4 linked regions of the Homo sapiens genome follow. The protein of the gene in region 2 purifies or fractionates together with the protein of the main gene of each other region. This does not show direct contact. Each region holds a gene or a part of one and is shown on either strand. Other genes may lie near its edges.

What was found. Proteins that work in one complex are often made in the same cells at the same time.
Region 1: the proteins of PRSS22 (region 2) and GPR107 purify together in Homo sapiens (affinity purification with mass spectrometry; one large-scale study listed by BioGRID and IntAct). This does not show direct contact.
Region 3: the proteins of PRSS22 (region 2) and GALNT1 purify together in Homo sapiens (affinity purification with mass spectrometry; one large-scale study listed by BioGRID and IntAct). This does not show direct contact.
Region 4: the proteins of PRSS22 (region 2) and CTPS2 purify together in Homo sapiens (affinity purification with mass spectrometry; one large-scale study listed by BioGRID and IntAct). This does not show direct contact.

The regions. Positions count from the first base shown.
Region 1 is NC_000009.12:130,137,285-130,140,664, reverse strand, and holds the end of GPR107 (protein GPR107 isoform 3 precursor), read right to left. Parts: 3' UTR 501-3,380; downstream 1-500. UniProt on the Homo sapiens protein: Has been proposed to act as a receptor for neuronostatin, a peptide derived from the somatostatin/SST precursor.
Region 2 is NC_000016.10:2,855,371-2,859,541, reverse strand, and holds the start of PRSS22 (brain-specific serine protease 4 precursor), read left to right. Parts: upstream 1-1,371; 5' UTR 1,372-1,437; coding exon 1,438-1,519; intron 1,520-2,693; coding exon 2,694-2,720; exon of another isoform or gene 2,721-2,807; intron 2,808-3,288; coding exon 3,289-3,460; exon of another isoform or gene 3,461-3,622; coding exon of another isoform or gene 3,623-3,690; coding exon 3,691-3,968; intron 3,969-4,171. UniProt on the Homo sapiens protein: Preferentially cleaves the synthetic substrate H-D-Leu-Thr-Arg-pNA compared to tosyl-Gly-Pro-Arg-pNA.
Region 3 is NC_000018.10:35,707,240-35,710,739, reverse strand, and holds part of GALNT1 (polypeptide N-acetylgalactosaminyltransferase 1), read right to left. Parts: intron 1,117-3,500; coding exon 970-1,116; 3' UTR 1-969. UniProt on the Homo sapiens protein: Catalyzes the initial reaction in O-linked oligosaccharide biosynthesis, the transfer of an N-acetyl-D-galactosamine residue to a serine or threonine residue on the protein receptor.
Region 4 is NC_000023.11:16,695,670-16,699,169, reverse strand, and holds part of CTPS2 (CTP synthase 2), read left to right. Parts: intron 1-76; coding exon 77-247; intron 248-833; coding exon 834-934; intron 935-3,500. UniProt on the Homo sapiens protein: Catalyzes the ATP-dependent amination of UTP to CTP with either L-glutamine or ammonia as the source of nitrogen. Constitutes the rate-limiting enzyme in the synthesis of cytosine nucleotides.

The DNA of each region.
Region 1 (3,380 bases), on a different chromosome or scaffold from region 2:
CTGTAGGTAAAATATGCCTCAGTTTAAAACATTCTTAGTAAAATATGGGCTTTGGAACTGAATGACTTCTAAAAATGCTTTGAGTCTAAAATCCTGGATTTCTCTGCTTCCAACATGGGGTAACCCAGAGCTATTGCTAACCGATGCAGAAGGTGCATTTGCGCCTGTCACAGTGCGGGCTCTGCGCCAGGCCTGCCATCTCCCCTCAAATGGCAGCAGTGCCCCGACACTGGTTCACAAGACATCGCCCGCCTCCAGCGTAAGCAGGACAGCAGTAACCTACAACCGGTTTTCAGTTATCTGGGTCTTAATTGCGCTGCCACAGATCGGCTAAGATGCCTGGAACTTCTCTAGTAGGTGTCACTATTGTCAGTAGGAGCTGGTGGGAGGCAGTTAACTAATTTAATGAACAAAAATCACAAAGAAAAAAATTATGAGATGGAGGTGGAGGAGAGACAGCACCAGGAGCCGGCAACTCCCTGCATCTCAAACACACACGGTTCTGCCAGATAATCTTTATTTTACACATTTGCAACACGGCAAGAGAATTCACCCCGTACATCACCATGATCGGATCCCCCACCCATTATACGTTGTATGTTTACATAAATACTCTTCAATGATCATTAGTGTTTTAAAAAAAATACTGAAAACTCCTTCTGCATCCCAATCTCTAACCAGGAAAGCAAATGCTATTTACAGACCTGCAAGCCCTCCCTCAAACGAAACTATTTCTGGATTAAATATGTCTGACTTCTTTTGAGGTCACACGACTAGGCAAATGCAATTTACGATCTGCAAAAGCTGTTTGAAGAGTCAAAGCCCCCATGTGAACACGATTTCTGGACCCTGTAACAGTATCTTACGTGCTCCAAAGGCTGACCTTCTGGAGGCTCACCGCCTCATCTGGCTGCTTCCTCCAAAATCCAAAACCTTGCCTCAAAATAAGCTGTCCTGTGGGTGAGTTGGCTGTTCTGTTTCATTCTGACCATTCTGACTCTGCCCAGAACGCCGTCCCACCTGCAGACACCCTGCTGCCAGAACTCCAACAGGTCCCCGAGGTAGCGAGGCCAAGCCATGCCCATTCACTCCTGCACCATCTCAGTGTGCTCCCTCACACAGGGCCTGAGATGTGTGGGGCCCATGGCCTGGCAGTGAACCATCTAAAAGCATTATCTATTTTTCAAGCATAAACCACGCAGAGAGGCTCAGATGCATCGCTGGGCTACAGAAGTGGCCTCTGGGGAATCTGGAGTATGTTCAGCCTGCCGACCGATAACTACGTTCCAGGTGGTGACAAGTATTAGCGTCAACTCAGGTAGATGCCTTTTAAAAACGCCCTGCCAGAAACACCCTAGGGAAAACTGGAGTGAAGAGCGGGTCTTTCAGAACATTTGGTACTTTCTGGATGAATATCTTTTTGATATACCAAGAGGCATCAAGTCAAAGTCTCACTTCTATAGCGAGGAAGCCATTAACTTGCTGAATCCTAAAGGGAAGAATCAAGCCGCAGGCCACAGGCATCCTGGACTTAGCTTACGTGAGTCTTACAAGGCCAGGGGCGGGTCAGAGAAAAGCAGCGGGGTGAAGTGTGGAGTGTGGAAGCAGGGGTGCAGCAGTGTGCTAGATCTGTTTCCTTTGAAGTACAGCAGCTTGGCAGCATGAAGCATGAGTTGTTCCACTGTTCTACTGGGTGTATGGAGCTGGGCCAACAACCTCAGCAGACTATCTAATGTTCTAAGAGCCTTCCTCAAAGAAAATGTTTCAGGACGGGGGAGAAGGCCAGAATGCATCTGCAATTCCAACAGGCATCGCTATGCTCTTCCTTGGTCTGTAAGGACTGGATGCCTGGAGTAGACTGTTTTAAGTACCAAAACAAGACACCCATTTTAGTGTGGAGGAAGACCAGCCTATATGGCCCAGAGCAATAATATTTGGCATGAGTATGCCACTCTTGAGAAAATTCTCCTTAGCTTAGAAAATGCATCTTTCACACAGCTGCTGGGAGAAAACGCTGCAATGCACCAAAGCCTTTAGCCGGTGTACCCAGAATGAGCCTATGTGGGATCAATAGGCACGGGGAGAAAGATGGCAGAGAAGGGAAGAGGAGGGAGGAGGAGGGAAGGAGGAGGAGAAAGAGGTGGAGGAGGGAGGAGGAGCGGAAGGGGAAGGGGGAGGGGTAAGGGCGAGGGCAGAGGAGGAGGGGGAGGGGATGGGGAAGGGGGAAGGGCGAGGGCAGAGGAGGAGAGAAGAGGGAGGGAGGCTGTGGAATGAGACAGCAGAGATGGCGATGAGGTCATCACGCAGGAGGAAATCTCACCCACACGAGGTGGACTTACAGGGCTGTGTGCTGCCTGGGCAGGCTGGACATGTCCAGGGCGGGGAAACCCTGGATATTTCACTCTGAAGTGGTTTCTTGAAAGAAAACTCAACTGACTCAGGCCATGAGCATCTTTTACACTGAAGCAAGCATCTCCTCACAAGTGCCTCCTACAAGTCACTAGAGTCATATTCAACATTACAAAATGCAGTGCTACTTAAATTTTAAAGCACTGAGGGACCAAGAAATGGGCTGATCAAGTCCTTGGCCACTCACTGTTAAGAGCCAGGATTTACAGATCAATGACTGTTCCTATTGTCCAAGAAATAATTTTCTAGCAAAGCATACACACTTTATTAAATTTCACAGCCAGCAGCGCTTTCAGTCCACAACAGATTTCTCAGAGGAAACATGGATATTTTGCGTAGGCAGAAACAGTGAGGAGTACAAAGCAAAGCTATAAATACCACCAATGGTTCTGCTATGTGCATCCGATATTTTTTGCCCGATCTGAAATACTGCAAGGGCTTAACCATTCAAACACCGCATGACAACGAACCCAGTGGACTGTGAAACTCAGGCTGCAGGAGGGTGGCTTGTCAGCTGGTGAAGCCACTTGGCTTTGGACTCCATCGGTCATCTTTACGCAAGAGCAGAGATGAACGGTGGGTCACGGCTATGACGTGAAGGAGAAAGAGAAGACACACTCACAGAACAGGATGGAGAGCTTCAATAATTTTTTAAAAGCTTGGAACCACCACCTGCTTTCCCAATCTTGGGCTGGGGTTTTGACTTTTCTTGATCATCAATCTGACTTGAAGCCTTTTACCAGTTACAATACAGACATGGCCAGATGACCTGCTTGTTAGGAAGGCTGTGGCCATCTTTGTTTCTGAAACAGTCTTATCTCATCTGTCCACTGCTGCTCTGGAAGGGTCAGGACCAGCACTGCAGACACTCGGCCATGCTGTGAGTGAGCCCAGACATACGCGTGGAATCTGAACACCCAACGCTGGCGTTCCCGTGCCAGTCTGAGGGCTGCGGCTCCAGCGCTTGTCCA
Region 2 (4,171 bases):
CATGGCACTCCTAAATGTTTGCTCTATTATATAAATACTATATTTATATTTGTATAAATATATTTATTACATACATATTCACTACTATGGTTTTTTTTTTTTTTTTTTGAAACAGAGTCTCGCTCTGTCGCCCAGGCTGGAGTGCAGTGGCGTGATCTCAGCTCACTGCAACCTCCGCCTCCCAGGTTCAAGCGATTCTCCTGCCTCAGCCTCCCAAGTAGATGGGACTAAGGGCGCCTGCCACCATGCCTGGCTAATTTTTTTTTTTTTGTATTTTTAGTAGAGACGGGGTTTTACTATGTTGGCCAGACTGGTATTGAACTCCTGACCTCATGATCTGTCCGTCTTGGCCTCCCAAAGTGCTGGGATTACAGGAATAAGCCACCCCACCCAGACACTATGGTTGTTTTTAATTCACCCCCGGCGGTAGCAAGGGCCCTGCTGGAGGCTTGTTGATCGAATGAGTGAAGGGGCGCAGGCTCCTGCCTCTTTGTAGAGGAGGAAGCCTGCCCTGCTTGGGTGGGAGTGTCCCAAGTGTGGGGCGCTGCAGGGCACTGAGTCAGGGAAGGTCTCACAGGATTCAGCCCCGGGTTGCCACTGTGGCAGCCGCTGGGGGGAAGCACCGAGAATCCACTCCCAGCCCAGGACCCGGCCCCCCACAGCCCAGCCCAGCAGCTCTTTGAATCCTGGGAGTCCCAGCCCTTCCCGGGGCCCCTCTTCTCTCAACCCCCCTGCTTGGCCGAGCCCTGGTGCCCATGGGCTCCTCCCCTTCCCAGGAGTCCAGGTGAGGTGAGTTGTCAGGTGTCTGAACCGCAGGGCAGAGCCCCGCCTCCAGGAACGACAGGAGGGCGGCCACCAGGAGGCCACCAAGGTCGCCACTCACCTGATTCACAGCTTTCGGGAAGTGGGTTAACGGGATTCCCAAGCCCGGGTTGCGCCAGGTCTCTGGGCTGAGTCACAGGGGCCTGGGGCCCTGCAGGTGGGAGCCGTTACTGAGCTTTGGGCACCCCCTTGATCCCTAAGGCCCTAGGACCACCCCCAACACCCAGTACCCCAGACTTCAGCCTCTCCAAACCCAGGCCCTCCCCAGCCCGGAACCCCTTCCTTTCAGTGCCCTGGCACCTTTCTCTGCCCCTGGACAATTAATGTCAGGGACCTCTGGGCCCAAGCCCCCTCCCCTGCCCTTCCAGAGGCCACATCCTGGGGTCTCAGCTAGAGCCCCCCCAGAGCCCTGTAGCGGCTGGCTTCCTCCCCGCAGCCCCGCCCTCTGCCCAGGACCCACAGCCGGGGTGGCCGCGGGAGCCACCTGGGGACTGGTCTGACGGCATTCCGCCTCCCAGGATAAAACCTGGGGCGACCTGCAGGGAACCTACACACCCTGACCCGCATCGCCCTGGGTCTCTCGAGCCTGCTGCCTGCTCCCCCGCCCCACCAGCCATGGTGGTTTCTGGAGCGCCCCCAGCCCTGGGTGGGGGCTGTCTCGGCACCTTCACCTCCCTGCTGCTGCTGGCGTCGACAGGTACGTCCGGAGGCTGCTCCTCCCTCCTCCCTCTCACCTCCACCCTCCTTCCCTCCTTCCCTCCCTCCCTCTCTCCCTCCTGGCCTTGCCTCTCTCATCTCCTTTCCGCTTCTGCTCTGTTTATCTCTTGCTCCTTAACTGCTCTGTGCCTCGGTTTCTTCTACGGCTGTGAGGATGAAACAGAAAACGCAGCAAGTACGCAGCGCGCCTCGGTCTCCAGTTACCGTCGGCGTCGCCATCGCCTGCTCCCTCTCGCCTCCGTGTTCTCCCATCTCCTCGTCCTCCGCTGCTTGCCTCTGGGGAAGCACCGTTTTGTGTTGTTCCTGCCGCAGGAGGTCAGGGGAGGGCACACCAGCGGCAGCAGCGTCCAGAGCCGAGGGGCTCAGGTCTGTGCCTCCCTCGAGGAGCCGGTCCTGGTCCCCGGAAGGCAGGCTGGACGGGAAGCTGCGGGAGGGCAGGGTCACAGCTGTGCAGCCAGGGCCTGGCCAGGCCCCAGGAAATGCCCCGCCGGTAGGGGCCCTGGGGTTGAGAGACTTGAGAGTCTCCCTGGGCACTGGAGGGCTAGAGGTTCCTCACCACCAGGTACTCAAGGGGACCCCCTCCTCACTGGGCGCTGGGACGCCTGCTCACTGGGCGCTGGGACCCCTCCTCACTGGGCGCTGGGACCCCCTCCTCACTGAGCGCTGGGACCCCCTCGTCACTGGGCGCTGGGGACCCCTCCTCACTGGGCGCTGGGGAGCCCTCCTCACTGGGCGCTGGGGACCCCTCCTCACTGGGCGCTGGGGAACCCTCCTCACTAGGCGCTGGGGAGCCCTCCTCACTGGGCGCTGGGGACCCCTCCTCACTGGGTGCTGGGACCCCTTCCCACTGGGCACTGGACCCCTTCTCACTGGGTGCTGGGGGCTTCTCGCTGGGCGCTGAGGGACCCTCCTCACTGGGTACTGGGACCCCTCCTCACTGGGCGCTGAGGGACCCTCCTCAGGGGGTGCTGGGACCCCTCCTCACTGGGCGCTGAGGGACCCTCCTCACTGGGTGCTGGGACCTCCACCTCACTGGGCACTGGGATCCCTTCTTACTGGGTGTTGGGGGCCTTCCTCACTGGGCGTTGAGGGCCCCTCACCACTGTGTCCTGGGGCCCCTCACCGGCCTAACCGTTTCCTTCTCTTGCCCTCAGCCATCCTCAATGCGGCCAGGATACCTGGTGAGTGGAGCTGGCAGCTCTGACGGGAGGGAGAAGGGAGGAGGCCCACGCGCAGGCAGTGTCTATGTGTCCGTCCCCTGGGCACAGGTCAGAAAGGGGCTGGGGTGAGAGGGGGAAAGAGCTAGAGGGGAAGGGAGGCAGGAAGGAGACACGGATGCAAGGAGAAAGGCTTGAGAGATGCCAGGGCCAGAGGAGAGAGAGAGCCAGGAAGGTGAACAGAGTGGAAAGCAGGGTAAGGAAAGAGGGGGAGGGAGAGACCAGGTGCAGCTGACAAGGAGTGAGTGGAAAGGCCAGGGCCAGGTGAGGACCAGCAGAGAGTGAGGATGGAGGGAGGGATGGGACGGGGAGGTGGGCGGAGCTTGGGGTATGGGTGGAGCTTAGGATGTGGGTGGAGCTTGGGGTGTGGGTGGAGCTTGGAGTGCAAGTGAAACTTGGGATGTGGGTAGAGCTTGGGGACATGAACGGAGCTTGGGCTGTGGGCAAAGCTTGGGGTGCAGGCCTAGGGATTGGGATTCCGGGGGTGGGTTGTAGGAAGTTGGAGATAACAAAACTTGACCGTACCCTCCAGTTCCCCCAGCCTGTGGGAAGCCCCAGCAGCTGAACCGGGTTGTGGGCGGCGAGGACAGCACTGACAGCGAGTGGCCCTGGATCGTGAGCATCCAGAAGAATGGGACCCACCACTGCGCAGGTTCTCTGCTCACCAGCCGCTGGGTGATCACTGCTGCCCACTGTTTCAAGGAGTATGTACAGCCGGCCTGGGGCACTTGATCTTCTAAGGCCCTGGGCTTTGTGCCCCAGGCCCTGGGCTCCCTTTACAGGCTCTGCTTCCGGGCCTCTGTTCAATCTTGGTGCCCCTCGATTCTACCTAGAAGCCTCTCCTGCCTTCAGGGGCCTTCACACCCATGCTGTTCCCCCAGGTACCTCCTCCCAGACCAGGCCTGGCTGATCCTCCCCTTCCCTTTCCTTCCAGCAACCTGAACAAACCATACCTGTTCTCTGTGCTGCTGGGGGCCTGGCAGCTGGGGAACCCTGGCTCTCGGTCCCAGAAGGTGGGTGTTGCCTGGGTGGAGCCCCACCCTGTGTATTCCTGGAAGGAAGGTGCCTGTGCAGACATTGCCCTGGTGCGTCTCGAGCGCTCCATACAGTTCTCAGAGCGGGTCCTGCCCATCTGCCTACCTGATGCCTCTATCCACCTCCCTCCAAACACCCACTGCTGGATCTCAGGCTGGGGGAGCATCCAAGATGGAGGTGCGGCTTCTTCCTCTCCAAGGTGGTTGGGGGCAGATGGGGACAGAGGATGGCAGACACTCAGGGACACAGACACCATGAGCAACAAAGGGTGGAGGCCAGAGGCACAGCATGACAGAGGTGGAAGGAAAGATGGGCTGCAATCCAGAAGAAACCTTGGTGGGCAATTTCAGGCCATTTCTCTTTTCTTTTCTTTCTTCTTC
Region 3 (3,500 bases), on a different chromosome or scaffold from region 2:
GAATCTTGGGTATTTCGCATAATCAGTTAGGTCAAGTGAAGAAGTCGAAAATGTGATAAGAAATTTGTGTGTGTGTGCACATGTAAATCTGTAAGCCAGTTGACCCAAGAGCAACTGAAACATCTAATTTGTTCAGCTGAGATCAGACATTGTTAAATTTCCATTTTTTAGAAGGCAATTAAAAATTACAATTCCAACAGCCCACAAACCAAACAAAAAAAACTGTAGAGAGAAATTAAAACTATATTCAAAGAGCCTTTTTTTTTCAGCTCAATTTCAGCACCCCAAGGAAAATAAAAGCATCCATGACTATCACAGATGAAAACAAAATGAATGTCATTGGAATCAGTTATTTTTCCCCACTGAGGTATAAAATCTATATAGAAATTTGATACTATACTATAACAAATTGTACTTCTCATAGTTCTGTTTTAATTTCCTTTAAACCCTGTTTAATATAGTTTTTTTGTTGTTGTAAAAATGTTGTTTTCATGATTCTGAATCTGGTTCCAGTTCTTTTATTTTTATATCAATATTTAATATACTGGCTACCAGTTCTAATCAGGAAAAAAAATCTTGGAAATCTCTTCATTATGACAGCACGTTCAGCAGAAACTACTGATGTGCAAGCAAACCATAAAAGGTACAGTTCTCCAGAAAGCATATTTTGTTGATTTTTTTTCATTGTCTCAGTATTCTTTACCATGATTTTCGGAGAAAGACTCTTTCAATCTTGTAAACATCAGTGTGCACAGTCTCATTACTATGCAGTTTCACGTCCATGGACAGGAAGGCTGGTTCACAGCTAGTGAAAAGCTAGAGAAGTCTAAGTTTTAATGGCTGATAAACCTTACATCCTGCAGAGGAGGAAAGCACTTTTCCTTTTTTGCTACTTAAGAATGTGGCAGAAATGTATGCTGAGGTAGCCCAGTCAATCCTTATTTTTTTCGTTTTTTTGTAAATTTGGTCTCAGAATATTTCTGGCAGGGTGACGTTTCGAAGAAGCCACTGCTGGGACCGACTTCCATTGCAGTCTCTAATGCTGGGCACCTGGCTATCCTCTTCTGTGGCTTTATCCAGGCACTGATTACTGTTCACATGCTGCAGGGTTAATTTCTGAAATAGAAAAAATCTTAACATGAGAGTGGAAGAAAACAAAACACCTCAAGCATCAGTTTTGGTGATTAAGTTCCTCTGCAGAAAAGGTGTTTTTTTTGGTAATATACATTATTTAAAAGACAACGGAGAAAAGGTAGGTAGGTGGATGGATGGAGAAACAGAGAGAGAGAGAGAGAGAGAGAGAAGTAGGTAGATATGTAGGTCGATAAAGAGGTATGAGGGAGGGAGAAAGGCACTGGGGTCCAGTAGGGTACACTTGACTTGCTGCAAGATGACCTAAATTCTAAGTCCTAATTCTGGCATAAGCTCTGTAACACTATGAGAAGCTTCTCTTTTTTGTGCTTCAGTTTCCTAAACAACAAAAAAAGACCAGATTAGTGGTTCCTAATTTAGGATCCTCAACCTATTTTCAAACAGCTATTTCAAAATTGTTTCATTTCTCTATGATAAGGCTGTTCAAGTTAATTCTGTGATTCCAAAGCTCAAGTTTTTAGAAACTCAGGTCTTTCTGATAACTCAAAATCATAAGAATGTTGGGACAGCTGATATTTAGTAAAATCAATCTTATGCCTATGTCCATAGCAAACCCAGAGGCTATCCTGGTGGTTAAAGGAGATGGTGTGGTACAGAAAGAAAAGCACAGGAATGTGGAGTTGAGTTCACAGCCTGGGTAACTTGAGGTTTCTCATTTTAAAAATTAGGATCACATTACATATTTTGAGCAGATTTTGGGAAACTACATAGATAATGAAGATAAAGTACATAGTGCCTCACCTACAAAAGAGATTCTTAATAAATGGTTAACAGACATAGCTATATATTTTATCCACTTATTTAAGTTCTAGATTTGATGCAGCAACATGTTATTAGGATAATTTTGAAAGGGCAGGGCAGGTAAGAATTAACAGATAGATAGTTAACAATGATCCACACCAATGATTGTGATAATATGCTCTGGTCATGTTAAGGACTTCAAAGTAGTTGTATACAGGAATGTGCATTAAGCATTACTCTACAAATGTAAATTAACTCGAAGGAAATGTAAAATGTTTAACACATAGTTATCTGATTCTTTTACTCATGGCTCTATTTTAATGTAGTTCTTTTATCTGAAACATTTCATTTTCATGAGGCCTTTTTTGCACCTATTAGAACTTAAAACAAAATCTAATAATTGTATACAACTACTTAGGCTTCCAGTCATTTATTATTCTTCCGTGTTGTGGTCAAAGTAGGACCTGGCAGATGACAGTCTATCTTTGCAGATGTCACTACTGATACTGTCTTTAGGTTCAGGATTCTATCTTTAATGCTTCCAAATATAAGACTAGAACCTAGAAGAGAGTCAGCATGGCTGTGGGAATTTTTTTTTCTTTTTTTAATGCAGACTTTGTGTAGTTTATTGAGAGGAGGGGCTTTGCAGTCAGACATTCCTGGGGTGATTTCCAGATTTGTCACACACCAACTATATGCTTCTGAGCAAAAACCTAAACTCTTTGAGACCCAGTTTCCTCATCTATAAAATGGGGACAAAAATACCTCACCGGGTTTTTATGAGGAAACACTGAGATAATGTACATAAAGTGCTGCCTATCCCAGAGTAAATGCTTGATAAATGGTACAATGACATTTACATACAATGGTAATTTGCATTTATAGAGTAATGCTTATTATTGGAAAACACAACATCCTGGCAACGTCCTGAGCAGTCATGGACACAATCCAGCAGCCAGAGCGCTGCGGCTCAGCGTGCACATTGCTGCCAGTGGCTTCAGTCTCAGGAAAGACCAGAACAAGAGAACCTCTCAAACATTCCGGGAGTTCCCGCAAAGCTTATCCCAGTGGCCTCCCTCATCAGGCCCATGGTCACTATTACTAAAAACAAAAAACCCCCAACTAGGCACAACAAAAAATTTAGTTGGGAGAGTTGGTCTCTCTTAACCTAGTTTCTAAAAATGTGCATTTCACTCATCTAGATTCATTAAAATAAACCCATCACAAACACATAGGTTATTGCTCTGTGCTGAGTATTTAACTATTCGACATCAGGACAGAATCCCCATAACTTGGAAGGTGAGCAGCACCCCCAGGAAGCCTAGACTCTGGTGGAGAACCCTGTTCCAGATACAACTCTGGCTGCTGACAGCAGGCACAGAGCCTTGTGGCTTGGAACCTTGTGGGTAGGATGCTGTCATCACAGCACTCCTCAGAGGACTCAGGCAACACCAACTAGTCTCCATTCAGAGAGAGCTGGACTAAGGCATCAGGACAAGCAAGTGACAAGCATCTAACCGTAACCTTTGAAGGAGAGGATAAAAGCTATAATTAATCATTTAGTAAAGTCTACCTGCATCCTAGAAAAAATAATTTGCCAAGCTCCT
Region 4 (3,500 bases), on a different chromosome or scaffold from region 2:
TAACAAAAATATGTCCATCTTTGAAAAATCTACTGGAAGCAAAGTTTTGATTTTTCCATTGCCTTTTTAATCCTAGGTGAAGTCTTCGTCTTAAATGATGGTGGAGAAGTTGATTTAGACCTTGGAAATTATGAAAGATTTTTGGATATTAATCTTTATAAAGACAACAATATCACCACGGGGAAGATATATCAGCATGTGATCAATAAAGAGAGGCGTGGTGATTACCTGGGGAAAACAGTGCAAGGTATTATATTCCACAGACATTATGGAGCCCTGTGTGCTGAATATCTTTGTACTGCTCAAAAGTAGAACTGAAGGCCGGGCACGGTGGCTCAGGCCTGTAATCCCAGCACTTTGGGAGGCTGAGGCCAGTGGATCACCTGAGGTCAGGAGTTCGAGACCAGCCTGACCAACATGGTGAAACCCCATCTCTACTAAAAATACAAAAATTAGCCAGGCATGGTGGCGCATGCCTGTAATCCCAGCTATTCGGGAGGCTGAGGCAGGAGAATTGCTCGAACCCAGGAGGCAGAGATTGCAGTGAGCCGAGATCGTGCCACTGCACTCCAGCCTGGGCGACAGAGTGAGACTCCATCTTAAAAAAAAAAAACAAAACAAAGCCAAAAAAACCAAGTAGAACTGAAAATGTCACAGTCCCTGCGCTCTACAAGTTCTAATTCTTTTAAAATTGTTGCGTTTTTTTCTTTTCATTTTCCAAAAATATGTCAGGGTAACTTGCCAGGTGACTTTCAGGTGATTGGGGAGGCCTAAAGCACATTCTTTTCTCATGAGCATGGAATAAACTTTTGTATTAATACTTCTTTCTACAGTTGTCCCTCACATTACTGATGCTGTCCAGGAGTGGGTTATGAATCAAGCCAAGGTGCCGGTGGATGGTAATAAGGAAGAGCCCCAAATATGCGTTATTGAGGCAAGCATAGAACTTTCTTTATAAAATTATATCCTGCTGGGTCTTTGAGCATCTGATCTTCATTTATTTGACAAATACTTACACACGCCCTCCTGAGTGCTGGACACTGGGCTAGGAGGTGGGGTCACAGCAAGAAACAACATAGATGGCTTCTGTCTTTGTGGTCACAAGTGAGTGGGCAAGATTGGCATTAGACAGACAATCACACCTACTCCTGGGTGGACGTGCAGTGATCTGCTTGTGGAGACTGATCAGCTGCTGATAAAGTCAATGTGAGGGCCTCTTCTGTGCCGGGGCCTGGGATGGGCACAGTCTCTGACCTTGGGGAGCTTGCAGACAACCCTGTCTACACACAACAGACTGCATTCTAGTGCATACTATTTGAAAAGTATTTCCGAAGTGCTTTGGAAGTGTAAAGAGACACTGGGTTAGGGAAGTCAGATGGTAGCGGTGATAAGTGATTAGTATCAGCTGTTTAAAGAAAGAAGCTAGTGGCTGCGCGAGGTGGCTCATGCCTGCAATTCCGGCATTTTCAGATGCCAGGGTGGGAGGATTGCTTGAGTCCATGAGTTTGAGACAGCCTGGGCAACATGGCGAAAACCCGTCTCTACAGAGACTACAAAGATTAGCTAGGCATGTTGGTACGCACCTGTAGTCCCAGCTACTTGAGAAGGTGAGATGGGAGGATCTTTTGAGCCCGGGAGGTTGAGGCTGCAGAGAGCAGTGATTGCACCAGCACTTCAGCCTGGGTGATGGAGCCAGACCCTGTCTTAATTTAAAAAAAAAAAAAAAAAAAAAAAAAAGTCGTATTTGAACTTGCCACTTGTTTACTTCCTTCACCTTGTTCCCTTCCTCTCCACGTGCAGAATGACAATAACATCCATATCCTCCTCCTCTAAATGTCAGTTGGCTTAATTGCCGGGCGAAAGAGCAGAATAATGACCAATTTGGTTCTTAGAGTCAGGCTGCCTCAGTTTGTATTTCTGCAGTGACCCCTGAGCCACGTATAGCTCAGTGATTAAGAGTCTGGAGGCAAACTGTCTGGGTTTGTAGCCTAGCAAGGTCACTTATGGGGAGGAGGGGGTGACCTTGGGCAAGTTTGCTCAACCTCTCTGTGCCTCTTTAACTCATTTAACTCATTTGTAACTCATTGTTTTGAAGATTAAATAAGTCTCTACACTTAGTGCTTAGAATGGTGTCACAGATATAGTAAGTGCTTAAAAATTATTAGCTATTATTAAGATGCCTGTATGACTTTTGGAAAATTCTCACAGTTTCAACGTCCTCATTTGTAATAATGTAATAATATAATATTATAATAATAAGATAATAACAGGATTGGGGATTAAATGCAATGTATCAGAGCACTTTGCAATGTCTGGCATTTAGGAAGTGCTCAGTGAACATAAGTTAGCTATTATTATTGTCATCAATGTAAGTGTTAGCAGATATCATGATATGTAGAAGATCCATTTTGTTAATAGTAGAACTGATAAAGTTACTGGCTATTTATTTTTTATAGATAGGGTCTCGCTATGTTGCCTCGGGCTGGAGTGCAGTAGCTATCCACAGGTGCGATCAAAGCCCACTGCAGCCTCAAACTTCTGGGCTCAACCAATCATCTTGCCTCAGCCTCCCAAGTAGCTGGGACTACAGTGTACCACCACTATGCCTGGCAAATTTTTAATTTTATTTCTTATTCTACCCTTGAATTGACTTGTCTTCACAATGATTAATTTAGCACTTAATATGTACTAGCCCTGATGATAGCTGCTAAGGATGTGAGGTTGAGTGTGATCTGACTCCTGCTCTCCAGGAGCTCATTGGCTGGATTTTAAATTTCATGGAAACAGGGAAACTGACAAACAGAACCCCTTCTCCGTTATAACCCTGATGTTTATATTTGCTTATTGGATACTAGTGGTCAACCATCCTCTTTGGTTGATTGTAAGTTGTGTTCAACAGTTGTGTCTGTGCACCATTTAAGCTTTTGAAGAAGGACTGCCAAAGCTGATTTTTAGTTTTAATCATAGAGGAGCTGTTGAAATGTCTTCAAAGCCATTTTTATGAGTGAGACCTCAACTTCTCATACCAGTGGAGCTGACAGGTTTTATTTATATTAGTACGAGTTATCTTGGCATGAACCTGAAATAATTTATGCTTGTCTTAAAGGAATAACAGTTTTCTTTCTTCTTGTTTATTTTCCAAAAAAGAAGACTCAGCCAAGTGTGGTGGTGCAGGTCTGTAGTCCCAGCTACTTGGGAGGCTGAGGCAGGAGGATCATTTATACCCAGGAGTTTGAGGCCGCAGTGAGCCATGATCTCACTACTGCACTCCAGCCTGGGTGGCAGAGCGAGACTCTGTCTTTAAAAAAAATTTAAAAAGGGCCGGGTGTGGTGGCTCACGCCTGTAATCCCAGCACTTTGGGAGGCTGAGGCGGGTGGATCACGAGGTCAGGAGATCGAGGCCATCCTGTCTAACACGGTGAAACCCCGTCTCTACTAAAAATACAAAAAATTAGCCGGGCGTGGTGGTGGGCGCCTATAGTCCCAGCTACTCAGGAGGC